Linked DNA regions of Homo sapiens: region 1 is linked to region 2. A link means that fine-mapping ties the variant in region 2 to the expression of a gene that starts in the linked region. Tissue or cell type: whole blood. Region 2 holds a variant in brackets; the other region holds the start of a gene. All regions are shown on one strand. Distances are from middle to middle.

Region 1 (8,180 bases), 39 kb after region 2:
GATGGTCTTGATTTCTTGACCTCGTGATCCGCCCCCCTTGGCCTCCCAAAGTGCTGGGATTACAGACATAAGCCACTGCGCCCGGCCTGTCTTCCTCTAATGAAAACTAGGCTGTTGCCTCTGGGTTCTGTTTCCCTTGCAGATCTCCCAAAGTAAGAGCTATTTTTCTTCCCACAGCTTAAAGCCTGGGAATAGAATAGATGCCCAACTTGTTTCCCCTTGCTGCTTCCAAATTGCTTCTTCCTCTTCTTCCTTTAAAAACCATAGCTCCTGGCCAGGCGCTGTGGCTCATGCCTGTAATCCCAGCACTTTGGGAGGCTGAGGTGGGTGCATAACAAGGATCGAGACCATCCTGGCTAACATAGTGAAACCCCATCTCTACTAAAAATACAACAAAAAAATTAGCCGGGCGTGGTGGCGGGCACCTGTGGTCCCTGCTACTTGGGAGGCTGAGGCAGGAGAATGGCGTGAAGCCAGGAGGCGGAGCTTGTAGTGAGCCGAGATTGCACCACTGCACTCCAGCCTGGGCAACAGAGCAAGACTCCATCTCAAAAATAAATAAATAAATAAATAAATAAATAAAAATTTTTAAACAATTAAAAAAAAACACAGCTCCTTAGAAGAGCATGTCATCTGGCTGCCCATTACTTCTTCTGTTCCTGTCACCTTCCAACCTTGTAGTAACTCCACATTCATTAAAGATTTTAACACTTGGATCACTATTTCCCACCTCATTTCTGTCCTCATACATGGGAACTTCAACATAATGTTGTGACCTAGGTTTCCATTGTGGCTTCTTACAACTTCACATGAGCACTCTCACTAATGCCATCTTCTCCTAGACTTCATTTACTATAGATGGGCTGATGATTTCCTATTGTTTCTAGCCCAAACATCTCTTCTGAGCTCCAGGCCCATATATCCAACTGGATATTTCTACTTGGATATTTCATGGAACTTCAAATTCAGCTAGTCAAAATCTGAACTCTTCATCTTTCTCACAAACCTGATTCTTCTATTCTTAAAATCATGTTATATAGAATTAATGTCTACCATTTACCCAAGCTAGAATTTGGTGGCGGAGGGCGGGGGGGAGTGTGGTCATTCCAGACCCCTCTGTATTTCTTAGAGACCACATCCCATTAGTCACCTCCTCCCTAAGCTGCATCTATAGTCCAGGAGTCCAGAGGTTTTCTGACTAAACCTCCCCAGACAGTAAACCTGGTAGCTAAGAGGGCAAATTCTTGAGTAAGCATGCCTGTGTTCAAATCATAGCATCCAGTTTATACTGTGTAATTGTTGGCAAGTAAATTATGTTTTCTGGGGCTCCATTTTCTTACCTGTGAAATGGGTATATAATAATATTGCTTACCTCTTGAAGTTATTGGGAGGAATAATTATGATATGTAAGATGCCTAAAACATAATTAGTACTCTAACTTTTAGTGATGTTAATAACATCAATGATAATAATGCCCGAGTGAAGCCAGCAGTGGCACCCATCTGGCTGCATGAATCAAGGAAAGAGATTCAGAAGATATCCATTGCTTTAAAAAAATCAAACAATTTTTTTTTAGAGACAGGGTCTCACTCTGTCACCCTGGCTGGAGTGGGTGCCCCTACTGGCTTCATTCAGGCATTATTATCATCTTATATATCATAATTAATTGTGGTTTCACACAATCATAGCTCACTGCAGCCTCAAACTCTTGGGCTCAAGTGATCTTCCCACCTCAGCTTCCTGAGTAGTTGGGACTACAGGTGCACACCACCATGCCTGGTTAATTTTTTACATTTTTTTGGTAGAGATTAGGGCTCTCCCTATGTTGCCCAGGCTGGCCTTGAACTCTTGGCCTCAAGCCATCCTCCAGCCTTGGCCTCCCAAAGCCCTGGGATTATAGGTGTGAGCCACTGTGCCCAGTCTCAACTGCTTTTTAATCAGATTTCCAGCCAATCCTTCATTCAGACCCACTCTGCACCCTTGGCTTTAAAGGAACCCAGTACCTCCAATTCTTAAGAGCATGGGTTCTGAGGGGCAAATTAGTTCACTCCTTACAGGCTTTCAGTCCACAGGCATTTAACTTTTTATGCTCTACACCTGCACTGTCTACTGTGGGCGCCAACGAGCCACACTATCGTGCTGATAAAATTTGAAATATTTTTGCTATCTTGGTTTAAAATATTATTAAAATAAATTTTACTTATTTTTACTTTTTAAATGTGGCTACTGGAAAAATTTAAATTACATATGTGGCTGGTATTATGTGTCTATTGGACAGTGTTGTGTGCGTCTTACAAAATTGACATTTCTCATCTGCTGTCATGTTTTCTATCATTGCATTTAGTCTTGTAGTTTATATACTTTATTTCTTTATTTTCCTTTTTGGGCACTGTCCCAGGAAAGCAAAGATAAATGCATATGTTACATCTGTCATGTTTAACTGGAAGTTCTACCTAAGCTTTTCACAATGTAGCTCCTGCTTATATTTGTGCACTTCGTGTCCTGTCACTACTCTATGGCCCTGCCAAAATGAATTACCAATAGCTTTCTGAACACACCAGGAAGCTTCCAGATTTGCCTTTATTTTTTTGGCCTCCTTTTTCCGGAATACCTTTCTAACCCCTCCCACCTGTCTGCCTATAAGTTACTCATTTTTCAACAGCTAACTCAATTTCACCTTCTCAAAGGGGCTTTTCTTGACTTTTCCTCGTACCAGTTGAGAAGACTGCTCGGGGATCCAGAATATTTCCTGCATTTTTTTTGTTTGGATAATTATCTGTCCTACAAAGGGAATCCATTTTATTCATCAGACCCTGTAGTGCCAAGTTGAGGGTCTAATACATAGTAAAAACTAAAATAATGTTAAATGAACGAATGAAGAGAGTAACAAAGAACGGTGGGATTGTAGAGAAAGGAGAGGCTGACTGAAAACGTTTCGAGAGAGCAGTGTTTTTAAGCTGTTCTTCAGAGAAGTTTTTGACAACTGGAGATGGTGTCAGGAATTTTCCAGGCAGTGGGAACAGGACAAGCAAAGCTTCCCTGAAGACAAGCAATATGCTAAAGAAATAGCAAATCATCCAGTTTGGAAGGAGCATTGGTAAGACCAGATCATGCAGGGCGTTGAGGTTATAGAAAGGAGTTTAACTATTGTTCTGAAGATAATGGAGAGTTAAAAGGTTTAAGCTGGAGAGAAAGAGAATTAGTCTTGTGTTTTAGCATTATCACCTGTGGCTGCAGACGGATAATGAATGCGAGGGGCATGAGTGGAAGCTGGAAGACAGCGAGATCATGGAGATGAGGAGAAACTGGATGTTGTGATCTACGGGTGGGTGGGGGGCAGTGGTGGTAAGTGGGGATAGAGATCCGGGCACGACCGCCGGATGTGTAGGCGGTAGAATGCACAGGACTCAGTAAAAGATGAACATGGGGAGTGAGGGAGGAGTTTTTAGTTAGTATGAACGGGAAGGCGAGGGTACCATTTACAGCGACGGGTAACCACGCGGGAGGAGCAGGTCAACTCCCGACAGTGGAGGTGAAGATGCGTGCGCCTCGCGCACCTTGTCCCTCGCGCGACGCCGTCCGCGCCGCCCGCGGTTCGGTCGGGAGCGGCAGCCCGTGCTCCGGTTCCGGTTCCGGTTCCGGCTGGCGTCTGCACCTGCGACCACCGTGAGCAGTCATGGCGTACTCCACAGTGCAGAGAGTCGCTCTGGCTTCTGGGCTTGTCCTGGCTCTGTCGCTGCTGCTGCCCAAGGCCTTCCTGTCCCGCGGGAAGCGGCAGGAGCCGCCGCCGACACCTGAAGGTAAGAGCAGGCCAGCTCCCTCTGAGCTTCCCGGCGCCGAAGAGTACGGAGAACGCTGCTTGAGGGAGGGGTGACTCTGAGAGTCTGCAGCCTTCACCGAAATATCCACCAAACTGACTGGAGAGGGCGGGCGAGACGGCGTTGAAGGGCCAATGCCCACGGTTCCGTTGTTATCAGCGGGTGGCGGCCCAGATGGTTCTGCTGCTGGAAGGGTCAGGAACGTATGCATGCAGGTCTGTGCATCCTCTAGGTGGCCTTGCGTACTCCCGTTTAGGCGCAGTCCCTTCTCTCTTACCCCGCTGGCTTAACTCATCTCGTCACCATTTGTTCACGTGCTTTGAGTCAAGGGTTCCCAGTTGGGTTTCCCTCTTTAGGTTTTCCGTGTACTTTCTGACGCGCCGCTTGGTACGAAATCAAGGCAAATGGAATTGGTACAGCAAACCTTAAGTCGTTATGTTTTTTCAACTTGGTGCTGGGCGCTCACTGCTTCAGGCTCTTCTTGTGCCTTTAAAAATATATCTTGAAGATTTTAATAACCCCAGTTTCAGTTACTGAGGTGGTTATGAACAAATTATTACGTTCCCCTTATTGAAACAGTATTTATCTGTTAATTCTTCGTTGTTGGCATGATGTATGTGGTGTTTAAAAATTCATCCTCTTAGCTGCACTGGGGCCTTTTACAGAATGAGTGTAAAGGCACGGTGCTGAAGGCTGGGAGAAGGAACCAGAACAGTTTTCTATAGGTCATGAAGTTCTACTGGTAACTTTCTCCTGTAAATTATCCTTGTAATATCTTTGAGACATGATTTTACGGTGTCTGAACACTTCCAGTAATGTTTAAACTGTTGATTGCTGGACAGCTCCTTTTGAACTGTAATCCACTTCCGTCTGCTTTATGCACATTGACTGTAGTTCCATTCTCTTGAGCATCATACACACTATAAATGCAAAGCACCAAGCTTTAGGGGTGGAGGGCAGGTTGAACACATAATTCTGTTTACAGAATTTGCCTGATAATCTTTATGCTTGTAAGACTATCCACTTGGGACGGACTTCTAAAACATCTTTGCGTATTTGTTCTTTTTTTTTCCTTTCTGTCTTATTGCAATAATCCCAAAGATTTTTACCTGCTTTGTCTAATGATATTGTCTACTTTGAAGAAGAGTCAATTCATGATGATCCTGAACAGTGAAGATTCTTCGAAAACTTTTTTTTTTTTTTTTTTACTTTCCATTATGGTGAATTATCTTGAACAAGTACTATTGACTGTGAGTGGGAGACACTCTTCTGAACGTTGTAGAAAATGTAGAGTGGAGATTAGACATGGGTTGTTCCCTTGAGAACTCAAGTGTTGGTATTCAGTGTTCTCATGTTAGGATCTTTGTACCTTCAGTTCTCTTTATTCCTGAAGTGCTGTGCTTTTCCCTCAGTGCCCTTCTCATCATTCAAATTTCTGCTCAAATGAAACCTCCTCAGAGAGACTTCCCCTGATGACACTAACTAAAATAACTCTTTTCTCCCATCATTCTCTATTTTATCATGTTTTATATTCTTCATGATAGGCATCACTATATGATATGGAATATTCTTAAGTGTTTACTTGTTTGTTTTTTTGTCTTCACCTTCTAGAATGTAAGTTTGCAAGGGTAGGGACTTTGTCTTGTTTACCACTGTTTCTTCAGTACCTGGCATATAATGGGCAGTCAATAAATACTTTAAGATTATTAAGCTACCAATACTGTAAATTCTGTTTTTGACAAGGAGAAGCTACTGAAGTAGTATAACCTAGGAAAAAACTTACCTTGAATGGTACATTCCAGTAACTGAAACTTGCAGCAAAAAATCTTAACCATTTTGGGGTTACATACACCATTGAGAATCTTATAAAAGCTATGTATTTTCTTTCTTTCTCTCTCCTTCCTCCCTCTGTCCCTCCCTCCCTCCTTTCCTCTCTTCCTGGCCCCCTTTCCCTTTCTCTTTCCCTTTCCCTGGGTCTCACTCTGTCACCCAGGCTGGAGTGCAGAGTCATGATCACAGCTCACTGCAGCCTCTACTTCTAGGGCTCAACTGATCCTCCCACCTCAGCCTCCCAAGTAACTGGGACTACAGGCACATGCCACCATGCCTGGCTAATTAAAAAAAATTTTTTTTGTTTTTGGTTGAGATGGGGGTCTCATTGTATTGTCCAGGCTGGTGTCGAACTCGTGGGTTCAAGTGATCCTTCTGCCTCAGCCTTCCAAAGTGCTGGGATTACAGGCTTGAGCAACTGCACTCAGCCTAAAACTGTATGTTCTCTCTAGAAAAAGGTACATACTCTTATTGTACTCAGAATTTCAGTATCAATTCAGAGAATTCTCAGAACCCAGAAATCCCTGCTTTGAAGAAAGGAATAACCCTGAGTATTTGAAAATTCTTAAAAATACATGTTGTTATGTCTTCCATTTTTGCCCATTGATGTGCATGAAACAAGCACAGTTCCCTTTCCACATGAAAGCCTTTAAGATAGTCTTTTAACAAATATTTATGATGTACCATATCACATACTGTGCACATAGTGTATAGACACTATGTATTCCAAGAAAAAATGAGCGAACTCCATGCTTTGAGGCGGCCACAGTTTAGTAAAGGAAAGTAGACATGTCAACAGATAAATGCAAAACAGACATGTTAGCAGATAAATGCAAGAGTGTCAGTCACAGTTACTCAAGTCTGCGCAGGGAACAATGGAGACATGTATGCAATGGTCAGTGTTATTGGGACTTAAGAAGGGTTTCATAAACCAGGTGTGACAGCTCATGCCTGTAATCCCAGCATTTTGAAAGGCTGTGGTGGAAGGATTGCTTGAGCCTGGGAGTTCGAGACCAGCTTGGGCCACATAACAAGACCCCCATCTCTACAAAATAAGTTTGTTTTTTTTCAATTAGCTGGGCATGGTGGTGTGCACCTGTAGCCCCAGCTACTCTGTAGGCTGAGGTGGGAGGATCGTTTGAAGTTTGGAGGTCAAGGCTACAGTGAGGTGTGATTGTGTAACTGCACTGCAGCCTGGGCAACACAGTGAGACTCTGCCAAAAAAAAAAACAAAACAAAACAAAAAAAAAACCCCAAAAAACAGGTTTCATAGAACATAGAGGAGGGAAGTCTTTTTTTTTTTTGATAACAGCTTTCTTGAGATCTAATTTATATATCATACAATTCACCCACTTAAAGTGTACAATTTATTGGGTTTCAGCATATTCAGAGTTGTACAACCATCACTACAACCAATTTTAGAATATTTCTTCAGCCCCCAAAGAAACCCTGTACTTTTTAGCTATTACTCCACAAATCCCCCAGCCCACCTCCAGCCCTAGGCAACCACTCATCTACTTTATGTCTCTATAGATTTGCCTGTTCTGGACATTTGGTATAAATGAAATCATATAATATCTGATCTTTTGTGACTGACGTCTTTTAACTAGCATAATGTTTTCAAGGTTCATCCATGTTGTAGCATGTAGCAGTACTTTTTTTATGGCTGAATAATATTTCATTGTGTGGATATACCACATTTCATTTATTCATTAATCAATTGATGGACATTGAATTTTTGCCTTTTAGCTATTATGAATAATGTTGCTACTGATATCTGTGTACAAATTTTTGTGTAGACTTAATGTTTTCATTTCTCTTGAGTGTATACATTTGGAAAATGTGAGCATTCCAGTGTGGCTGGAACTAAGCGTGGAATTTCTAGGTTGTATGGTTATTACATGTTTAACCTTTTGAGGAACTGCCAGACCATTTTCCAAAGCAGCTGTACCATTTTACATGACCACCAGCAGTGTAAGAGGGCTTCTGGTTTCTTGTCAATACTTGTTTGTTATCTGTCTTCTTGATGATAGCCATCCTAGTAGGAATGAAATGGTATCTCATTGTGATTTTATTTGCATTTCCCTGATGACTAATGACATTGAGCATTTTTTGTGTGTTTATTCACTCTTTGTCTATTTGTATATCTTGTTTTGGAGAAATGTCTATTCAGGTCCTTTTAACCCTCTTTAAAAGTCAGATTACTTGTCTTTTTTTTTTTTTTTTTTTTTTTTTTGAGAGAGACAGGGTCTCACTCTGGTGCACAGGCTGGAATACAGTGGTGCCATCATTGCTCACTGTAGCCCCAAACTCCTGGGCTCAAGTGATTCTCCCACCTTACCCTCCCAGGTAACTAGGACTACAGGTGTGTGCCACCATAGCTGGCTAATTTTTAAATTTTTTGGCAGAAATGAGGCTCTCACTATATTTCCCAGGCTGGTCTTGAACTTCTGGCCTCAAGTGATCCTCCCACCTTGGCCTCCTGAAGCACTGGTATTACAGGTGTAAGCCACCACACTTGGCGTCTTGTCT
Region 2 (8,180 bases):
AGGTAGCATGTGCAGTGCAGCCTGTTCTGGCTCCCAAGGCATGGCCTAGTTGGGACTGCAAGAACCATCAAAGCTGTCCTCCCCTCCCTCCCCTGCCTTGGATGACACATGAAAGGGACTCTGATGCCCTATGCTGGTGGCTTTGATGTCCAGCCTTGCCCATTGAAAAGCCCTCTCCCTGGCAATATTCTCTGTCTCTCCTCTGTGACTTTCCCTGTGTCCTCCTTGTCATTCTCTCTCTCCCTCCCCCTCCTTTTTTGCCCCTGTCTCCCTCTGACCATCCCCATCTCCATCCACCTTTCTCTGCTCCTCAAGCTCTGTGTAGCTAAGTCATTTTTCCTGAAGTAAAATCTGAGTCATCCTGTGTAAGACAGTTGGGTTCAATGAAGAATGAACCCAAAGGCCACGGGGCTTTGCTAGACCAAGCCTGAAGCTACTCACCCTACTCTCTTTTCTTAGAAAAGACATGAGTCCCCTGGTAGCTGGACGCTTGCAGCTGGTCCTGCCTCCAGAAAAAACAGAAGCCTCTCTGTGATCTGGCAGGGCTCCCCTAGACCCCAGAATATCCCCCAACCCATCTGCCTGGAGCCCAAAATTCTACTATTATTAGTTATCCCATCGGGACCCCCTGACATTGTGCACCAGCGATTTCATATGTGAGTCTCACAGTTTTTCTCTGAAGGGTCCCAATGATCAGAGGTATCAGAGAGTGTTGGAGTGTGGTCTGCCATATTACAAGATTATTTTTAAGATTCAGGTTTTGTCTTAAAAGTTCACATGCGTCTGTTCTCACTCATAAGTGGGAGTTGAACAATGAGAACACATGGACACAGAGAGGGGAACAATACACACTAAGGCCTGTTGGGGGTTGGGGGTTAAGGGGAGGGAAATTAGCGGACCCATCAGTAGGTGCAGCAAACCATCATGGCACATGTATGCCTGTGTGACAAACCTGCATGTTCTGCACATGTATCCCGTTTTTTTTTTTTTAGAAGAAATAAAGAAAATAAAGTTCATATGCATCAATGTATTCCAGTTTATAATATATCCCCCAAGTTCTTCTCAGTGCCCCCTTTCAGGTTACCAAATGTAACCTCTATCCTGCCAGTTCATAATATATCTTTTCAGGCTGGGTGTAGTGGCTCACACCTGTAATCCCAGCACTTTGGGAGGCTGAAGCAGGAGGATTGGTTGAGCTCAGGAGTTCGAGATCAGCCTGGGCAACATAGTGAGAATTTGCCTCTGCAAAAAAATCGTAAAAAGTAACCAAGTGTGTGGTTGTGTGCTCCTGTAGTCCCAGCTACTCTGGAGGCTGAGGCAGGAGGATCGCTTGAGCCTGGGAGTTTAAAGCTGCACTGAGTTATGATTGTATCACTGCACTCCAGCCTGGGCAACAGAGCGAGAGCTTCATATATATATGACATGTAACAAGATTTCTTTTAAGATTCAGGATTTGATCTCTCTCTCTATATAGACCTATATACAGAGAAATCTCTCTCTCTCTCTCTCTCTCTAGAGAGAGAGAGAGAGAGATAATTGATGGCTAAGGAATTGATGGTCATAAAGATGTGACTTGCCCAAGGTTGCTGAGCCTGTGAGTGGTGACCCATGGACTGGGGACTCCTGCCCAGGTCCCATAAGCCCTGTCAGTGGTGGCATTCCCAGATGGACAGAAATTTGCTTGCTGGAGCCTGGGTTGTCTTGTCTGATGAAAAGATTCCTGTTGAGAGTCTTGAGTATATTGAGTTAGGAAGATCCAAGAGGCAGGGGATGGGGTTTAAGCAATACTGACTCCCAGGACTTGGCCATGGAAGGATTGCAGGACTTCAGGCAGCCTGACTGGGGTGGCCAGTAGGCCAGTAGGTGTCTCTTCCAGAGAATCAGGCTCTGAGAGGGATACCATTAGTCCTCTGAGCCAAGTATGACTGTTGGCTTCCCGGATCCCTGATCAGACACTCACCTGGCTCTTCCCTGGGGACAGAGGAGAACAGGGCATGGTCTGGCCCCCTTAGTGTGACTGGGTGAACTTGAGCAGTTCTCTTCCTGTCTCTGAGCCCCAGTCCTCTTTGCAAAATAAGAAACTGGAAGGAATGTCTCCCAAATACCCAAGGGGTGGCTTGCAGCCCCCAGGGCGGCCAGCAGGAGGTGCTGGTGTCCTGATGGGTCACCTTCACAGAAGGGAAGAGCCAGGTCTGTGCAGCCTCGCCGGCCTCTGACTTGAGGCCTCCCTCTCTTGGTAACTCCCAGAGGAGGGCTCCAGCTGTCAGCTCACTGGGATCAAATGAGTCCCTGGCAGATTCTGGAGGTGTAGGAGAACCTGCTTGGGGAGGATCAGACCAAATTCTGCCAAAATTCTGAGGACTGGAGAAGGTGATTTGGGGGACTCCTTTTCAAAACAATAAGTCTGAACCTCGGAGGGTAAGGGGGGTGCTGTAGAGGGGTGCAACCCCTCACCAAGAACTTTATCACCAACCCAGGCTGCATTAACAGAGTATAGTGTCTAGAACATGGAAAGGAACAGGCTGTCTTCCAGCCAGATCGCCTATGGACTTTGGGCTTCAGGAGGAAGGTCCAAGGCAGCAAAGGGAAGGGAGACCCTGTCAGATGAGAAGCACCTACAGCCTCTTAGCTTGTCTTCCCCGCAGCAGAGCAGTCTTAGAGCCATGGCTTTCCAGACTGTGGAGCAGAGAGGTCACATGTGGGGGCACTGGTATCCAGCAACGTTGGGTTGGTGTCTGGCTCTGTTACTTTCATCAGTGACCTTGCATAGCTTACTTCACATCTCTCTGCCTCAGAATCCTACCTACCAGCCGAGCGCGGTGGCTCACGCCTGTAATCCCAGCACTTCGGGAGGTGGAGGTGGGCAGATCACAAGGTCAGGAGATCGAGACCATCCTGGCTAAGACAGTGAAACCCCATCTCTACTAAAAATACAAAAAAAAAAAAAAAGAAAAAAGAAAAGCCGGACATAGTGCCGGGCCCCTGTAGTCCCAGATACTCATGAGGCTGAGGCAGGAGAATGACATGAACCTGGGAGGCAGAGCTTGCTTGCAAGTGAGCTAAGATTGTGCCACTACACTCCAGCCTGGGTGACACAGCCAGACTACATCTCAAAAAAAAAAAAAAAAATCCCACAGAGACATGAGGAAGACTACATGGGATAATGCATTAAAGTACCTAGAACAGCGTCTGGCACGTAGTAGATCCTCACTTCACGTTAGGTGTTATTATGGTTGTTACTATTATTAGCTGAATGGGTGTCATGAGCAGAGGGAGACTGTATGGGTGGGGTATAGGGAAGAGCATACAGACTCTGTGTAAGGACGACCCTTCTCCATATGAAAGCTTTGATGGTAGTGAGCTTCCCACCCTGGAGGTGTTCAGAGGCTGAATGACTCCCCTCCCCAACTCTAAGGGCCACCTTCAGTTCTTAGACTTTTGGGGTCCCTTCTACAACTTTTCTTTAATTGACAGGAAAAAAAGTATGCATTTACCATGTACAGCATGACGTTTTGAAGAATATATACATTGTGGAGTGACTAAATCTGGCTAATTAACATACGGATTATCTCATATAGTTTCTTCGACAACTTTTGCACCTGGAGGAGATTCCCAGGACAGTCTGTCTGTCTGCTGGATTCTATTCCAGAGGAAAGGAAATGGGTGGTCCCAGCCAGTGCCTACAGAGGAAGACTCAAGAACTCCTTCCTGACTCATCTCCCTGCTCACAAACGCCCTCGGAATTCCTCTTTTTGAGCACAAACAGCAGGATAGGGACAGGGATGACGGCAGGAAGAGGCAGCTTAATAAAAAATCCCAATAAAGTTCTGCAGCCCCCGGCGGCCAGGTGCAGGTCCTGGGCATGAGCCTTCCTTAGACCCGCCCACAGGGGGGCCCTGACTAATATTCCTGGAGCCTCTGCCTGCCCCTGGCTTCATTAATGATGCTGAAGAAGGGTCTACGAGGTCCAACGGGGCTCCCCATTGCTGCCTGACGATATTGCTATGCCGCCCACGCCAGCCCCATCCCAGCACACATACCCTCCCTCTTCTAGACCCTCTGCAGAGGAATGGGTTTGATTCAATCAGCCATTTGCCTGTGGGACCGTCTGGTTCAACTTATTGTGGGCAGATGCCAGCGCCAGGGAGTCAAGCAACCCTGGTGCGGAATTTGGAGCAAAGACTTATTAAAGAGCAGCGGAGAGGCTCTGGGATGGGGGCTCTGTACCCCCAGAGCCACCAGACCCAGGGTGGGCTCCAGCTAGGAAAGGCAAGGGTGGGATAGATAGGGACAGGAACCCAGGCAGAGCCCACCAGGAGTGCTCCCCAGCTGGCTAGAGCTCCTCCCCTGGCAGTTCAGGGCTGGCCTCCCTCCACCGGGAGCTCGAGGTGGGACAAGCTCGGGTCTTGTTCCCTCTATGTATTCCCTAATAGAAAGCACAATGCTTTAAGAAGTTTGGGCTGAGAAAAGCTAAGTCTGAGTACTTTGAAGACGGCCAGACAAAGGGCTGGTGGGGACAGCACGGAGTGCCTCGGCCCTCAGCTGCCCACAAAAGGAAGGAAAAAGGAGTGCAGACGTTGCAGTTCGGCTTAAAAAACAAACCCGTGAAACAGAGACAGCCCCCCTACTTCCCCCTCGCTCCAGCATTAGCAGGAGGGGCTGAAAACATTTGTTCAGAGGGAGGGTGGGGGGAAAAACCCTAAGTGCTTCTGCTTCCTTTTTTTTGCCAAATCATGCAGAAGATGCTGGCAGCTGCAAAGATTCAATTATGAACAATGCGAAAAATCATTTACAAAAATAATGGCACTCGAAAAAAAATGGCCTCTCCAGAAATGGCGTGGAACAATAAATCCGTTAATTAGCTAATTAATATTCAATTGGGGTCAGTGGGCTTAATAGAACCTTTCTTGGAGACCCAAGAAATTCTAAACTGCCGCGAGGCGCCTGCCCACTGCCATTATCTCGGGCGAGCAGGCCCTTATCGGGCTGCCAGCTGTCCCCGAACAATGCGGGCCCTTATCAGCTGGGGCAGCAGCCCTGGCCGCTCGCTCCGGCTCCCTCCGCCCAGAGGAGCACGCAGCCTCTC[G/A]GTAATTGATACACGGCGCAGCTTTGTCTGAGGCTGTTTGCTCTGCTGGTATTTAAGGCAGCGCGGGCCCCCTGATTGATTGCCATTGGCCAAGTTTCTGCTGTCAGTGAAGGACCAGCCAATGGCAGCGGTTAACACTCTTGATGGCCCAGTCTTCTGGGCCAGGCCAGAGGCCCAACATGCAGGAACAAGGCCCGCTTCGGTTTGGCGTAAGTTTTGTTGTCCTCCTAAAGTGGGAACCTGAGCCCTCAAAGACTTGGGCGTTTGGGTGGGCCGCTGGTATCCCCTGCCCTGCTTTGCTCTCAGTGCGGTCTTTGTCTCAGGAAAATGGGAGGTTGCATCAGACCCTTGTTACTCTAAGTGTGGTCCATGGACTTGCAGCATCCAGCATCTGCGAGCTTGTTAGAAACACAAATGCTCAGGCCCACTTCAGACCTCCTGAATCTGAGTCTCTGGAAATGGGGTCTAGGAGTCTATGTTTTATTAATTGCCCTAGATGACTCTGATAAGGGCACGCTGAAGTTTGAGATGCAGTTATCGAGATCAGGGTTCCCACCCTTGGCTGTGTCTTAACACAGGCTCCCACCTGGGAGAGGGAGAATTAAATATACAAATTCCTGGGTCCTGCGGTGTAGGGTCATTTTCCCTCAGCCGCACCCTGAGCACAAGGTACTCTGGGAACACTAGAACTGGCCAGCAAAGAGACAGGGATACCGGCTGCCATGGTCGTGCCCATGGGGGTCCTGCCCAGGGTGGAACAAGGTTGCGCATGTCAAACAGTGTAGACAAGTTCTGGCTATACGGGACTTGGGCTCCAGAAATCCACAGGGAGTTAGAATGCATTTTCTATTTTTCTGAATCAGTGTCTTGCTCTGTCACCTAGGCTGGAGTGCAGTGGTGTGATCATAGCTCACTGCAGCCTTAAATTCCTGGGCTCAAGTGATCCTCCCCTTAGCCTCCCAAGTAGCTGGGACTACAGGTGCATGCCACTATGTCTGGCTAATTTAAAAAGAATTTTTTTGTAGAGATGGGGTCTCACTATGTTACCCAGGCTTATTTCAAACCCTGGCCTCAAGTGATCCTCTTGCCTTGGCTTCCCAAAGTGTTGGGATTACAGTTGTGAGCCTTCCAGATGCATGTTTGATAGAAACAACGTTCCACATGGGAGGTGGGCTCCCAGGCTAGCCCCTAGATACCGTGAGACCCATAGCAAAGCTGAGTCTCAGCACATCCCCTTAGCAAATGGAAGGAGAAGGGAGGAGAAGAAAGAAAAGGAAGTTAGGGAAAAAGAAGGTGGAGGGGACTTTATTGTCTTACTAGGGCTCAAATCATGGGGTCAGGTTTTCTGAGTGTTTCTTCGGTCCCCTACATTCTCGTCCTGCCCTGTCTTCTCTCACTTCACTGCACTCTTTATCACTGCACCCTTCCTGGCCTGCCCTCTCAGGTAGAGCTGAGAATCCCGTGGCTCTGCCTTCTCCCAACCCAGCCCCACATGTTCCAGCCGCAAGCCTTTGGGGACCAGCTTGGTCATGCCTCTGCATATGAATGAGCAGGACCGCTTCACTGAGGCAGGAGAGCTTTGGTGGGATCTGGACTTGGAGTTAGCTTAGATGAGGTGGGTAGGGAGAGTCCCCCATCCTGACTGCACCCCACCTTCTCTCAGGTGTTGAATAGGAGCCAGTCAAGCAATAGGAACAAGGAGGCCGTAAGGTAAGGGGCAAACACCAGGCATAATGCACCCAGCCTCAGCGCCCCTCATCCAACACAGTGGAGCTTGGTGAGAGGAATTCAAGAGCCATGCTCTTCCTGGAACAGGGCCAGGTACAGGGAACTCTGGGTATCAGCAGGTGACAGGACCTCAGCCACAGGGGCCATGGGGGGTTAGTGAGGCAAAGTTGGTCCAAGCAACGGATGGCTCTAAGCTTAGGATTATGTTGTCCTCGGCAGATGACTGGGCAGGGCCTTGAACCCCAGAGCAAGTTAGGATGAAGTTATCAGGTCTGGGGTTCCAGGCAAGGACCAGATGGATGTGATTCTGAGTGAGACCAGAGTGAAGGGCTAGAGCTACTGAAGCTCTTCCTGCCTCCTGGGCCACATCCCAAGTTGCCCAGCTAATGTGATCAGTTCCTTCGTCTCCATTGTGAATCAGCAGCAAGGGCCCCATGTGATGTTCCTCCTGGGTCATTTACTTCTCTAGCAACAAGGGGTTTTCAGTGCACCCGCATCTGCATGGGAGGATTACCAGGCACTTCTAGAACTGCCAGGGCCTCAGGGGAAGCTCAGCCAAGTAGATTGACTGGTGCGGACTGTCGGAGTCACCAGCAATCAGCATGGGGAGGAGCAGAGCTGATGCTGCAGTCCCAACCAAATGGCCCTTTCATCTGTGCCCTCCTCGGGGCTCTCAGTGTATCAAAAGGCTGTTGAAGAATATCAAAGGCAAGCAACCATTATCCATCACTCTTCTAGGTTAAATAACTTCCATATTGATGTGTTCACGAGACTCTAATGAGGAAAATAGCCTTCTGTTAAGTAAGCAAACCATTGACCTAAGAACCCATGGGTTAGCCCAGGCCCTCACCTACCACGTGAGCAGTTAGCTTCTAAAGCTGCCCAGACACCAAAAATACGCCCTTCCTCCCCAACCACATATGTTCACGCATGTCACTTTGGCTCTCATGGGGCTCCTTGATCCCTCCCTGAGCAAGTGTGCTCCTTTGGACAACATGGGTTTGGCCCGTCTCACCAAATCCTGGAAACGGAGGCCAAAGGTACTCTTGTCCAGGCTAGAGTCCTGACCCCAACTCTCTGAGGGGTGCATGTGTGATCCCAGATCATGGATATTGCCCTGCACAAGCTGGTGCAAGAGCAAGATACCCTAGTCTTCCTTTCCTAGATCAAATCTGCTCTGGTCATGTTTCAGGAGGCCACTGGGTGCTGGCCCATGCTTGGAGTTGCTTCCACAGCCAGCTATTGGTGGGAGGGAGTGAAAGGCAACAACAGAACGTGGACATGGAGAGAGAGACATTGAGAGACTCAGAGACACACTTAGGAGAGAGGCAGAAAGAGAACTCGAGAGAGCCGGTTGGTTTGTGTG

The links. PIP is the estimated chance that this variant, and not a neighbour inherited with it, causes the effect.
Region 1: RIC3 starts here. The variant in region 2 is fine-mapped to the expression of RIC3 in whole blood (TOPMed, PIP above 0.99). The same link has a PIP of 0.9 or more in aorta, esophagus mucosa, lung, skeletal muscle, spinal cord and tibial nerve.

What each region holds. Positions count from the first base shown.
Region 1 is chr11:8,164,486-8,172,665 of GRCh38, reverse strand. It overlaps RIC3 (RIC3 acetylcholine receptor chaperone), which reads left to right and starts at 3,641. Exons shown (of 6, transcript NM_001206671.4): 1 at 3,641-3,800. The coding sequence starts at 3,677. It overlaps RIC3-DT (RIC3 divergent transcript), which reads right to left and starts at 3,596. Exons shown (of 5, transcript NR_187234.1): 1 at 3,477-3,596; 2 at 2,678-2,781.
Region 2 is chr11:8,203,358-8,211,537 of GRCh38, reverse strand. No RefSeq gene overlaps it. Among named protein-coding and RNA genes, the nearest start is that of RIC3-DT, 38 kb to the right of the region's middle. RefSeq lists an enhancer at 2,402-7,039. The variant G/A (reference allele first, on the strand shown) is at 5,087.